Homo sapiens: one gene and its partners. The protein of the gene in region 2 purifies or fractionates together with the protein of the main gene of each other region. This does not show direct contact. Each region holds a gene or a part of one and is shown on either strand. Other genes may lie near its edges. The genes, in order: WRNIP1, REV1 and CDC27.

Region 1 (3,654 bases), on a different chromosome or scaffold from region 2:
CCCAGACAAGTACACATGCAGAATATTAAGTTGCAGATACATTACGATAACCAGTACACAGAGCAAAGAACACACAGAAACATGAAACATGTTAGGATTTCCCCCCTTTTCTTTCAATTTGTCTTTACCATGTGGTTCTATGCGTCTGTAATGAGAATTCTGTTACGGGAAACCTACACATGAGTATCCCACATCTGAAGTGCCTGGGACCAGAAGTGGTCTGAATTTCCTATTTTTTTGATTTTAGAATATTTGCATTATATACTTACCAGATGAGCACCCAAAATCCAGAAATCTGAAGTGCTCCAATAAGCATTTCCTTTCACAGCATCATGAAGGTGCTCAAAAAGCTTTAGATTTGGGAGCATTTTGGATTTCAGATTTGGGATACTCAACCTGTACTACATATGAGGAGCTGGCAGCCCCCTTAGGCTCTGACAAATGCCCACCACATAAAGCACTTCTGAGTATGAGTCCATGTGGCTGATACCACAGGTTCCACACACTGCTTGTGGCCACAGATGTAATGGCTATCCCCATCACAACGGTATTCCAAAACAAGGCCACTCTGTCCTACCCAGTGGTCCACGGGCCAAATGTTTCAATGCTTTCATTAGACACAGCAGAATTCTCCCTCCATCTCAGACAGGAGCAAATGGGGCCAGACACATAGGGAGAGCCTGGTGAAACCTAAACCCTGAGCCTAAACTATGCCTTGTACTTTAATCCTCACAGAAAAGTGGCTCCAGAACTTGGCCTCAGGGCAGGCACGAGCAGCTGCAGAGTCCACAGCAGGAGGAGGTGGGCAATAGCCTCTCATCACACCAGATTATGTTCCATGGCAGTATTTCAGCCAACGTATGAACAAATACCATCTGAAGAATATGTTCTAATATTAAAAAAAAGGAAAACCCCTGACCCAAGAAATCAAATTATCTATGATATACACTTGGTGCATTAACGAGCTCATGTGGTACTCATGATGCAGAAATAGGTCACTAAAAGGATAGGGACAGCCTATAATGTCATATTCAGTTAACATTCCTTTACTTTCATGAAACTGAGTTTCAACTACACAAAAAGGATTACATAATTTTAAGGTTACAAGTTAATTTTTACTTGATTTTTTTTTTTTAACAAAATGCTAAACTGCAGGTTAAAAAGAAATTGAAACATGAGTACAATGCTCAAAAGAGTTGTATGGTAAGTCTAGAAAGTATTTATCTATCTATTTGTTCTATTCAATGAGGGACATAAAGCCTTTCAAATCATCAATAAGGCTTCCCATAGAAGCCTAAGCACAAAAGCAAACACCCAAGAACCAAAACAACAAAGCAAAGTTAAAGCTTGAAGAATTATAGAAACACATATTAGAGGCTGGAAAATGCATCTTCAAGTGTGCAGGGATAACTTTGTTAGGTATAATCGAACATTTCCCTCCTCTTTTATTTTCATTACGGGCGGATCAACATTTCTTCTCTGTCCCCACCCTCTCCTCACTGACGCCCGGCCCTTTCTGGCCCCCTGCCAGGAGACTCTCTGGGAGGTGTGTGCCCCCAGGACGCTGCACACTGTCAACTTACTCTGAGCTGCTGTTGCTGCTGTGGCTCAGAGGGTCAGTGGGACGGCTAGAGTCTAGGACGTGGATTCCCAGGGAGTTGATCGCTCGCATTAAAATAGTCACCATTGCCTCTACTGGAAGCTTCTCAAGAACAATCACTCGACAGCGGCTCAGAAGAGCAGCGTTGACCTGGAAGGAAGGGTTTTCAGTGGTTGCCCCAATCAGAGTGATCGTCCCACATTCCACGTGAGGAAGGAAAGTGTCCTAATCATGGGAGGAAAACAGAAAAAAGTGATTCCAGTCAACAGCCACCTGCAGAATCCTATGTAAGTTGGCTATCCCTTCCTTCCTTTTCCTCATTTTTATCTTTCGAGTTCAGGAATAGCAGCAGCCTTATATTCACTGAATATAGATGCAATATTTGGGGGAGTACAACTCTTGCTTTTAAGTCTGAAACACATCTTCTGGAATGCCCGTCCAAGCCTGATCTCTTGCTGGTAGACTAATAGCTTTAAGTAGAATTCTAGCTTAGTTTCAACATAAATGATTTCTTTACTCAGAAAACCATCTTCTACCAAAGGCTGAACTGGCACATAGCTTATATGTAACAGCTATTTATTTATAGACAAGAACACACAAAAACATTAACACTTCCAGAATCTTCTTCCACAGCAAGCACTCAATCATATTATTATTATTCCTATTATGCTGTTTTATGGGGAAAAAATACTAAGATGAGTCAGTGGTCCAATATGAAACCTAGAATGCTAACGCCTCGTCAGAACTTTAAAAGGGTCTTTTTATTCAAAAAGGTTCAAAAAAGGCTCAGTAGAGTTTTGTGAAATATTCTATGTATGATTAAAAAGTTACAAAAAAAAATTTTTTAAAGTTATGCCTAAAAATTTAATTTTTTTTTATTTAGAGTATAGCTCTCAGATCTCAGCCCAATAAAATTTTAATGTTTATTTTTTTTTAAATCCCTAAGTGGCTTTGTTTATAAAAATAGCTTGTGTCCTTTTATTTCAGAAACCCATTTAAATAAACAGTAATCATTAGCTCTTCCAACATTCACCTTGAAGACAGAGCCTGGAGTTACAGAAAATACCGATTGTTTAATTTTCAAAATAAAAATACTGTTAAAGTAATTTTTAAAAACCCATTAAAATAATGACCTTAAAATCATTATTTTACTGTTCACAATGACTCCTAGTATTTAGATTAAAAATTCCTAAAACTGGAAATTTGATTCAAAGGTGCTTTTCTGATACGTATAGCTCAGGGATATGCCAACCATTTCATTTATCAGATAGAGAAAGCATTTTCTTGTTATCAAAAAACACTAAGAAATGTATGGAGAAATAGGCTTGAAGGAGATGGGTTCACAAGCCTACGCTTCTTTGTAAACAAAGCTCGTAAGTCTCTAGCGTTTGTATAGTGATCTCACACACTTTATATTGTTTGATGTTCACAACGACCAAAAGGTAGAAGGAAGTTAATATACCTGCTGAGATTTATTGAACCGATGAATCTCATCAATAAAAAGGATGGTTTTCCTTTTGAAAAAGCTCTTTTCATTTTGAGCTTGTTTTATGACATCTCGCACATCATTTGTCTTGGCATTTGTTGCAGATAATGTCACAAACCTTATGCTATGTTTCTTGCTGTTGCTGGCTATGATGTGAGCCAGAGTGGTCTAGAAAAGATGACATACATGGAGTTTGAAAAGCTGGTAAGACACAGAGAGACCAGCACCCATGGGAACCACCACACGCAGCATCACTATTTACCAAAAGCAACTTGACCTCGGAAGAATGCTGAGCAGCACAGAAACAATCAAAAATACCACAGGACATTTAAAAACAACAACAACAAAAATATTATAAATAAAACAGGAAAGTAGCTAAACCTTAGGCTAATCCTGACCTTTTCTCCTCTGTCCCTAACCACCTTTGATTCCTTTTTGGGTGACTCTTTAAGATCTTTGGAATCCCAGTAAAGAACGGCTGTCTTGATTTAGCAGAGTGACAGCTGTGACCTCTCACCAAAGAGAAAATTCTCCCTCCTCTAGCCGAGACAGCACGGAAGGATCTAGG
Region 2 (3,654 bases):
CTTTATTCTAGAAACAGGATCCAGGAGATAGTGAAAAGGATTTGCTGAGGATTTTGCTTAGCTGAATTCATATTTTCACTTTAGTTTTCCTAGAAGCATACTCTTTATTCTGGGTTCTAGGTTGGGATTCACGTGAATCAGTTGGTTCCAACTAATCTGAACCCTTCCACATGTCCCAGTCGCCCATCAGTTCAGTCAAGCCACTTTCCTAGTGGGTCATACTCTGTCCGTGATGTCTTCCAAGTTCAGAAAGCTAAGAAATCCACCGAAGAGGAGCACAAAGAAGGTTGGTGGTCATCAATGTGGTTCTTTTTTAGGTGCTGCTTATGTCCTTGGAAAGACGGCAGTTGGTTTTAAAATTGACACAGCTTTATGTGATTTTAAAAATTTATATTCTTCATTATGATGAATCAGTAATAAAGTTTTTTTATTTGTAATGGACAGAGGATTAAAGGCCCTGCCCGATGATCTGAAGAGGCTATTTTATATATTTTCTTTTTGTAGTATTTCGGGCTGCTGTGGATCTGGAAATATCATCTGCTTCTAGAACTTGCACTTTCTTGCCACCTTTTCCTGCACATCTGCCGACCAGTCCTGATACTAACAAGGCTGAGTCTTCAGGGAAATGGAATGGTCTACATACTCCTGTCAGTGTGCAGTCGAGACTTAACCTGAGTATAGAGGTCCCGTCACCTTCCCAGGTACATTTTTGTAGTCCTAAATATAAGTACATTTTATACTCCTAAATATAAATACAAAAATACAAGTTTACAAATGAAAATGGCATTTTTATTTCTTCATCCGTTTAACCAAGAAAGGGAGAACGGGCCACTTGTTTGGGTAGATCATGATGTTGGATTCTAAATAAGCAATATTTGGGTTGAGTGAAAGTGCTTTTGCAAAGATTTGCCACTCTTGCAAGTTGTAAAGCATAGCTGAAAGGCAGTCCTCCTGTGGACTGCCATTGTCTGTGACAGTGGTCATCATGCAGACTTACTGTATTCAGCAAGGCAGCTTTGGTGATTAGTGGTGAAGTAGAGGCCTTATGTCGAAGGGTTTTTGCAGTATTTGCAAACAGGTCTCTGGAGATTTGGATGGTTTAATTCAGCGTGTGTGGGCTGTACATGTGATATACTGCTGGTCCTTGAAAGTAAGGTAGCACCTTAAGCTATATTGGGCAAGTTTATTTGTGCCTCTGCTCCCCCTGCATGGAAGGAGGCGGAAGGAGATGTTAAATACTGGCTGCAAAACTAGGGGAAAGGGCAATGCTGATATGCTTGTATGGCGACAGATACCCACAATTAGTTACTCCTGGCAAGATAAGATTGGTCCACCCAGTTGATGGGATTGCATGTTTCCAAAGGGCCAGATGTGGATGCACAGGTAGGCCCTGGCCAAAGGAACAGTGGATTCTGTCCTGTAAGTTAGAGAAAATTCAGCTTCTAGAAACCCTTTCTTCCAGTGTGCTGCTCTCAGAGTAGAATTATTTGTATTTTTGGGCAGTCTCTCATCTGAAAGGTGAACTTTTGACCCAGGACTGTTACCTGTCCAGAATTTTAACATGTGCCTCAGGCCTTCACCCCTCCCTGGGGTGGGATCTAATTTGAGCTTCACCAAGGCTATTCATATCTGTTGGCCCCAATTGCAGGACATTCTGTGAGTATATTTGGACTTACCTGGTCATGTGATAGTGGCTGGTAGTATATATACACTTCTTTCCAGACTACACATAGTACTTCAGGCTTCAATGACAAAAGGCCAAGACGTTCCAAAAATGTGCTGATTTGGAGGTGGCTTTCCTAGCTTGATGGTCTGTACCTTACATTGATTATCCACAGTATTCAAATTGAAATTTAAAGTGGCGTGTTAACTCCCAAACACCTCATCTCTGAGCATGCTTTAACTTCCTACTCATATGTTTGGCATTTTATAGCTGGATCAGTCTGTTTTAGAAGCACTTCCACCTGATCTCCGGGAACAAGTAGAGCAAGTCTGTGCTGTCCAGCAAGCAGAGTCACATGGCGACAAAAAGAAAGAACCAGTAAATGGCTGTAATACAGGAATTTTGCCACAACCAGTTGGGACAGTCTTGTTGCAAATACCAGAACCTCAAGAATCGAACAGTGACGCAGGAATAAATTTAATAGCCCTTCCAGCATTTTCACAGGTAAGTTAAATATGGGAACCCTCTGCTGTAGTTTCAATATTCTCACCCCCCTGCTCCAACTTAGGACCTGTCTCACTTCCCTTTCTCCTCTGTATCTGACACCACATCCACTGGGGAGGGGAGGGGAGGGGAGGGGAGAGTGGGCTTGTCTCCATCTCCTGCATCTGCAGGATGTAGACACAGAGCAGCCTCCCGCTGAAGCAGCAGGGAAGAGACGGGGGAGGGCATGCTAAGACAGAAACACACTGATCTGGGGCAAACACATCAATGGCCACACTTGAATACAACAGAGCGGAGATGTATAATCCTGCATGGGGGACAGTAACAACCTGAGTCCCTGTTTCAATGTTTTGCTTCCCATTTTCTACTAGTGCATTTTGCCCAGGTTCTGCTGTTGTAGTGGGTTTCTTTAAGTTAGTACTCTTAATTCCTTATTCTTGCTCTTAATTCCTTATTCTTGCTCTAACCATTTTGAAGATTTAATCAGCTTTGATATTGGGGAACTGTTAAGAATTCGTACAGATCAGAAAAGTGAGATTTGAAAACAAAGTCTGTTTTGTGAAAAAGAGAAACCAGCTACCATCTACAATTAGCTCAGGTTTGACTTTGACCTCGTCTTTTCCACTAGGTGGACCCTGAGGTATTTGCTGCCCTTCCTGCTGAACTTCAGAGGGAGCTGAAAGCAGCGTATGATCAAAGACAAAGGCAGGGCGAGAACAGCACTCACCAGCAGTCAGCCAGCGCATCTGGTGAGCCTTGGAAGTGGCATGTAACAAAAATGAAGACAAAGAGTAATGGAGTCACTGTTGTCTAATTATTGCAGTATATAATGGGCAAAGTCTAAGCTGTTGCATTAAGAGCTCTTCATATTGGGATAATATCTGAAGTATACAGTATGAGTAAATATCATCATATTTCTAGTTGGATTTGTGTCTGTACTTTCAGGATTTAAACACACCACTTTTTACTTTTTAAAAAGTTGGAATAGGACATTACCACAAATGTCTTAAATACTTGTTCAGCTAGTTGTCCTTTGAGATGAATACATTAAAGGATGTTGGTTCAAAATGCATCACAAACATCAAACCCACATTTAGTACTACCCATCATAGATGAGCAACATGCCAAAGGTCAAATTAGTAAGTGGCAAAGCAAAGAGAGAATTGGAGAGCCTGTACTTTGGGCCATTGCCATTCACTGCCTCTCACTTGGGGCAGGAGGGGAGGTGTAGGCTAGGGAGCCTGTTGTATTTGGGAGGAGAAAAGAGAACCCAATACTGTCATCCAGACTATCCATACTATCATTTTGTTGAGGATCTTATATCCATCTGCTCTTAGTGCCAAAGAATCCTTTACTTCATCTAAAGGCAGCAGTGAAAGAAAAGAAAAGAAACAAGAAGAAAAAAACCATTGGTTCACCAAAAAGGATTCAGAGTCCTTTGAATAACAAGCTGCTTAACAGTCCTGCAAAAACTCTGCCAGGGGCCT
Region 3 (3,654 bases), on a different chromosome or scaffold from region 2:
GCCCTAATAGAGTATAGGCATAAGCGTAATTTGGATCAACTTGGATAGCTCTCTGGAAGAATTTAATTGCAATATCATGTTCCCGTTGCAGACTGAAACAGTTCCCTGCAGCACACCAGGCCTTAAAAAAATGGGAACAAAAACCAAACAGAATTAAAATTTTACTTTTTCTAAAACCAAATCTATGACTAAAATCAAGCCTCAACTTAGAACAGAAAGACAAAAATGGAGGAGCTTCAGTAGATACTCAATTCTAATTATTCACAGATTCCATATTTGTGAATTTGTCTGATTGCTAAAATTTATTTGTAAAACCAAAATCAATACTTGCAGTGCTTTCATAGTCATCAAAAGGTATGTTCTCATTTGAGGTTGAATAATGTGACTCTACCTTCTTGTTTTAGCTCTCATGCAGAGATGACCAGGGACAGAAACTCTGTGGGCTAGTTTAGTGTAGTGCAAGAAGCTTTGGCTCTGGGGACAGTTGGACAGAATTTGAATCCCACTGCTGGCACTTTTAAGTAGGATGGCTTCAGGCAAGTCACCTCTGAACCTCATTCTCTCTCTTTTTTTTTTTTTGAGATCTGGTCTTGTTCTGTTGTCCGGGCTGGAGGGCAGTGGTGTGATCTTGGCTCAATGCAACCTCCGCCACCTAGGCTCAAGTGATCCTCCTGTCTCAGCCTCCCGAGCAGCTGGGACCACAGATGCCAGCCACCATACCTGGCTAATTTTTGTATTTTTTGTGGAGAAGGGTTTTGCCATGTTGCCGAGGCTGGTCTTGGAACTCCTGAGCTCAAGGAATCCGCCTGCCTCAGCCTCCCGAAGTGCTGGGATTATAGGTGTGAGCCACCACACCCAGCAGCATTCTCTCTTTTGTAAAGAAAATAGGATCTACCAGGATGAGTTATTTTTAGGATTCAAGATTATAATCCACAATCTATCTCTGTTTCAAACTCTCCATCACTCCCAGGAACATTGGTTCAGTAGCACTAATTCAGTGTTCATGTTGACTACAGAATTACCGCAAATAATGGGAGTTGACTGTGTTTAATTCTAAGCTTAGATATGTTACAAAAGTATCATTAAATATTTTTGAGATGCAATGAAATACAATCTTACAAGATTAGAGCATGTACATTAATTGCACCTATGTCTTACAATGACAATACTAATTTATTTTAATTTAAAATTATTAATTTTTTCAATCTATGTAACTTCTGCTCAACGAACCCTAATCTTGGTGACAACAGCAAATTTAACGTAGTCAAATCTCGATAAATCCTGAATGAAATAGCTGCTTTGTGATTTTTCTATTTGTGAATCTGCACCACACATTCTAGGACTTTCTCTTCCTCTCTGAGTCCCTGACTAGAGAGAGAGGAAAAAAAAGAAATAAGCGTGGGTGACACTAAATAGTGTTTGAATTGCTTGGTTCATCTCTATCTGTTGAGGGTGATCAAAAAGGTAACTATATAAGCAAAGTATTTTGGTTAACATACCTCTGGCGAATTTTTATCCATGTCTGTTAAGTCTTTTGACAGAACTGAAAGAGCAACATCTTTTTGAAGATGCCAAAGTGTTGTAGAGTAGATCTCCATGCCTTCAACTCTATAATTCTCAATCCTTCTAACCTCTGAGAATATTCTTTCAGCCTGAAATAAAAAAAACTAGTAAGAGAAAACAAGTTGATACAATTTATATATATACACAGGGAAAGCCCTGGTCATTATCTTCACAGGATCTAAATGCTGCCTTGTATTATGGTTTTTATGTGAATGAGTATTAACACAAGGACAAATTCAGCAATCTACTATGGCAGGTCAAATAGTGATGTAACCATATTGACAGTCAACCTAGTATTTATATACAAGCCATGGTAAGAACATGAACTCTGAAAAGGAAATTTGAGTTTCTACCAAAAAGACCGAAGAGAAATCTATACAAAGCTACAATTCAAAAGAAAAGTCAATATTTCCTTCTCAAAAACCTCATTTCCAAGTTTTAATAATGGCATTACAGAATAACTCTTTTTTTTTTTTTTTTTTGAGATGGAGTCTCACTCTGTCGCCCAGGCTGGAGTGCAGTGGCGCAATCTCGGCTCACTGCAAGCTCCGCCTCCCGAGTTCACGCCCTTCTCCTGCCTCAGCCTCCCAAGCAGCTGGGACTACAGGCGCCTGCCACCACACCTGGCTAATTTTTTGTATTTTTTAGTAGAGACAGGGTTTCACCATGTTAGCCAGGATGGTCTCGATCTCCTGACCTTGTGATCCACCCGCCTCGGCCTCCCAAAGTGCTGGGATTACAGGCATGAGCCACCACACCTGGCCAGAATAACTCTTTTAGGAAAGATGATGGAAGAATGATTTCTGTAACATAAAATCTATTTTTGAACAATTTTTACCGAGAGGTTGTGCCAGAAAATTTAGAGGGAAGAAACAGGTTAAGCTGGCTATCAATCCTATGGTTATAAATCCTATTGAGCCCTGAATATACACACCAATATTGTGTCTGCTAGGAATCATAGGCCCTACCTATTAATTATCCTTTCCTTTGCAGCACTCTCTTGACTTCAGGGTCTCTCCTCAGCTGCCTCATCAATTTTTTTCCTCATCACATTCACAGCTCCCAGAACTGTGTTTCTCTCCCTCTAAAGTTTGAGGATTTAGGTTATATAAAATCAGTTTCCTAGTTTATCAATTTACCAAGTTCAAAATTCTCAGCTGCCAGAAAAGGTCTAGGTAATAAAAAAAAAAAGAAAGGAAAAGAAATTTTCACAGTTTAGTTTATAATAAGGAATATCTGGACTATTCTTAATGAAATGAGTATGACAGAAAATAAGAGCATTTTAAAACTGAGTGCTTAATTCCAAGAAGTGGTCATATGATATATAGGAATAGCTTAACGATTTGTAACTTCCTTGCAATCTCTTAAAAGTTATAAAGGTAAGTGTGCAGCCTTGACCTGCAGGGCTCAAGTGATCCTTCCACTTCAGCCTCCCAAGTAGCTGGGACCACAGGTGAGTGCCACCACACCCAGCTAATTTTTTCATTTTTTTGTAGAGACAGGGTCTCACCACATTGGCCAGGTTGGTCTCCAACTCCTGAGCTCAAGTGATCCCCCTTCCTTGGCCTCCCAAAGTGCTGGTATTATAGGCATGAGCCACCACACCTGGCCAAGTTTTTCATTCAGGCATGGTAACAAGATAAAAGACCTACCAGCCAAATATAGGTAGGTACCTTTTGGTTTCAAAGTTTTCAGAATCTGTTGCTTCCTCTGAAAAATGATTATGGCATAGACAAAAAGAAAAATGGGAAAAAAACTCAGAAATTAAGTTGAAACAGAGGCTTTCTTTAATTAAATATTTGGGTCACCACTATAACTAGGGGAAACAATAAAATTCATTTATGTTAAAGTAGCTGTGAAACAATAAATTAGAAATAATTTTTTAAATGGCTTTTCCGAACACAGCTCTTGCCTGTCTGTGTATATGCTACATACCAGTAAAGGACCATAATCGAAACATGGGTTTTGTAGCAATGAATAAGACTTTCTGTCTTCAACTCTCTGTTCTGTACTATTCAAAATTAAATTATATGAATAGGTATCCTCTGTATGTATTCCCTGTGGGAAAGAACACCTTTCCCCTAGATCTTT

The links.
Region 1: the proteins of REV1 (region 2) and WRNIP1 purify together in Homo sapiens (affinity purification with western blotting, with the first as the bait; one study listed by BioGRID). This does not show direct contact.
Region 3: the proteins of REV1 (region 2) and CDC27 purify together in Homo sapiens (affinity purification with western blotting, with the first as the bait; one study listed by BioGRID). This does not show direct contact.

What each region holds. Positions count from the first base shown.
Region 1 is NC_000006.12:2,768,291-2,771,944, reverse strand, and holds part of WRNIP1 (ATPase WRNIP1), read right to left. Parts: intron 3,255-3,654; coding exon 3,063-3,254; intron 1,888-3,062; coding exon of another isoform or gene 1,832-1,887; exon of another isoform or gene 1,826-1,831; coding exon 1,584-1,825; exon of another isoform or gene 1,569-1,583; intron 1-1,568. UniProt on the Homo sapiens protein: Functions as a modulator of initiation or reinitiation events during DNA polymerase delta-mediated DNA synthesis. In the presence of ATP, stimulation of DNA polymerase delta-mediated DNA synthesis is decreased.
Region 2 is NC_000002.12:99,402,957-99,406,610, reverse strand, and holds part of REV1 (DNA repair protein REV1), read left to right. Parts: intron 1-120; coding exon 121-286; intron 287-504; coding exon 505-701; intron 702-1,933; coding exon 1,934-2,167; intron 2,168-2,795; coding exon 2,796-2,916; intron 2,917-3,504; coding exon 3,505-3,654. UniProt on the Homo sapiens protein: Deoxycytidyl transferase involved in DNA repair. Transfers a dCMP residue from dCTP to the 3'-end of a DNA primer in a template-dependent reaction.
Region 3 is NC_000017.11:47,137,240-47,140,893, forward strand, and holds part of CDC27 (cell division cycle protein 27 homolog), read right to left. Parts: intron 1,653-3,654; coding exon 1,500-1,652; intron 122-1,499; coding exon 1-121. UniProt on the Homo sapiens protein: Component of the anaphase promoting complex/cyclosome (APC/C), a cell cycle-regulated E3 ubiquitin ligase that controls progression through mitosis and the G1 phase of the cell cycle.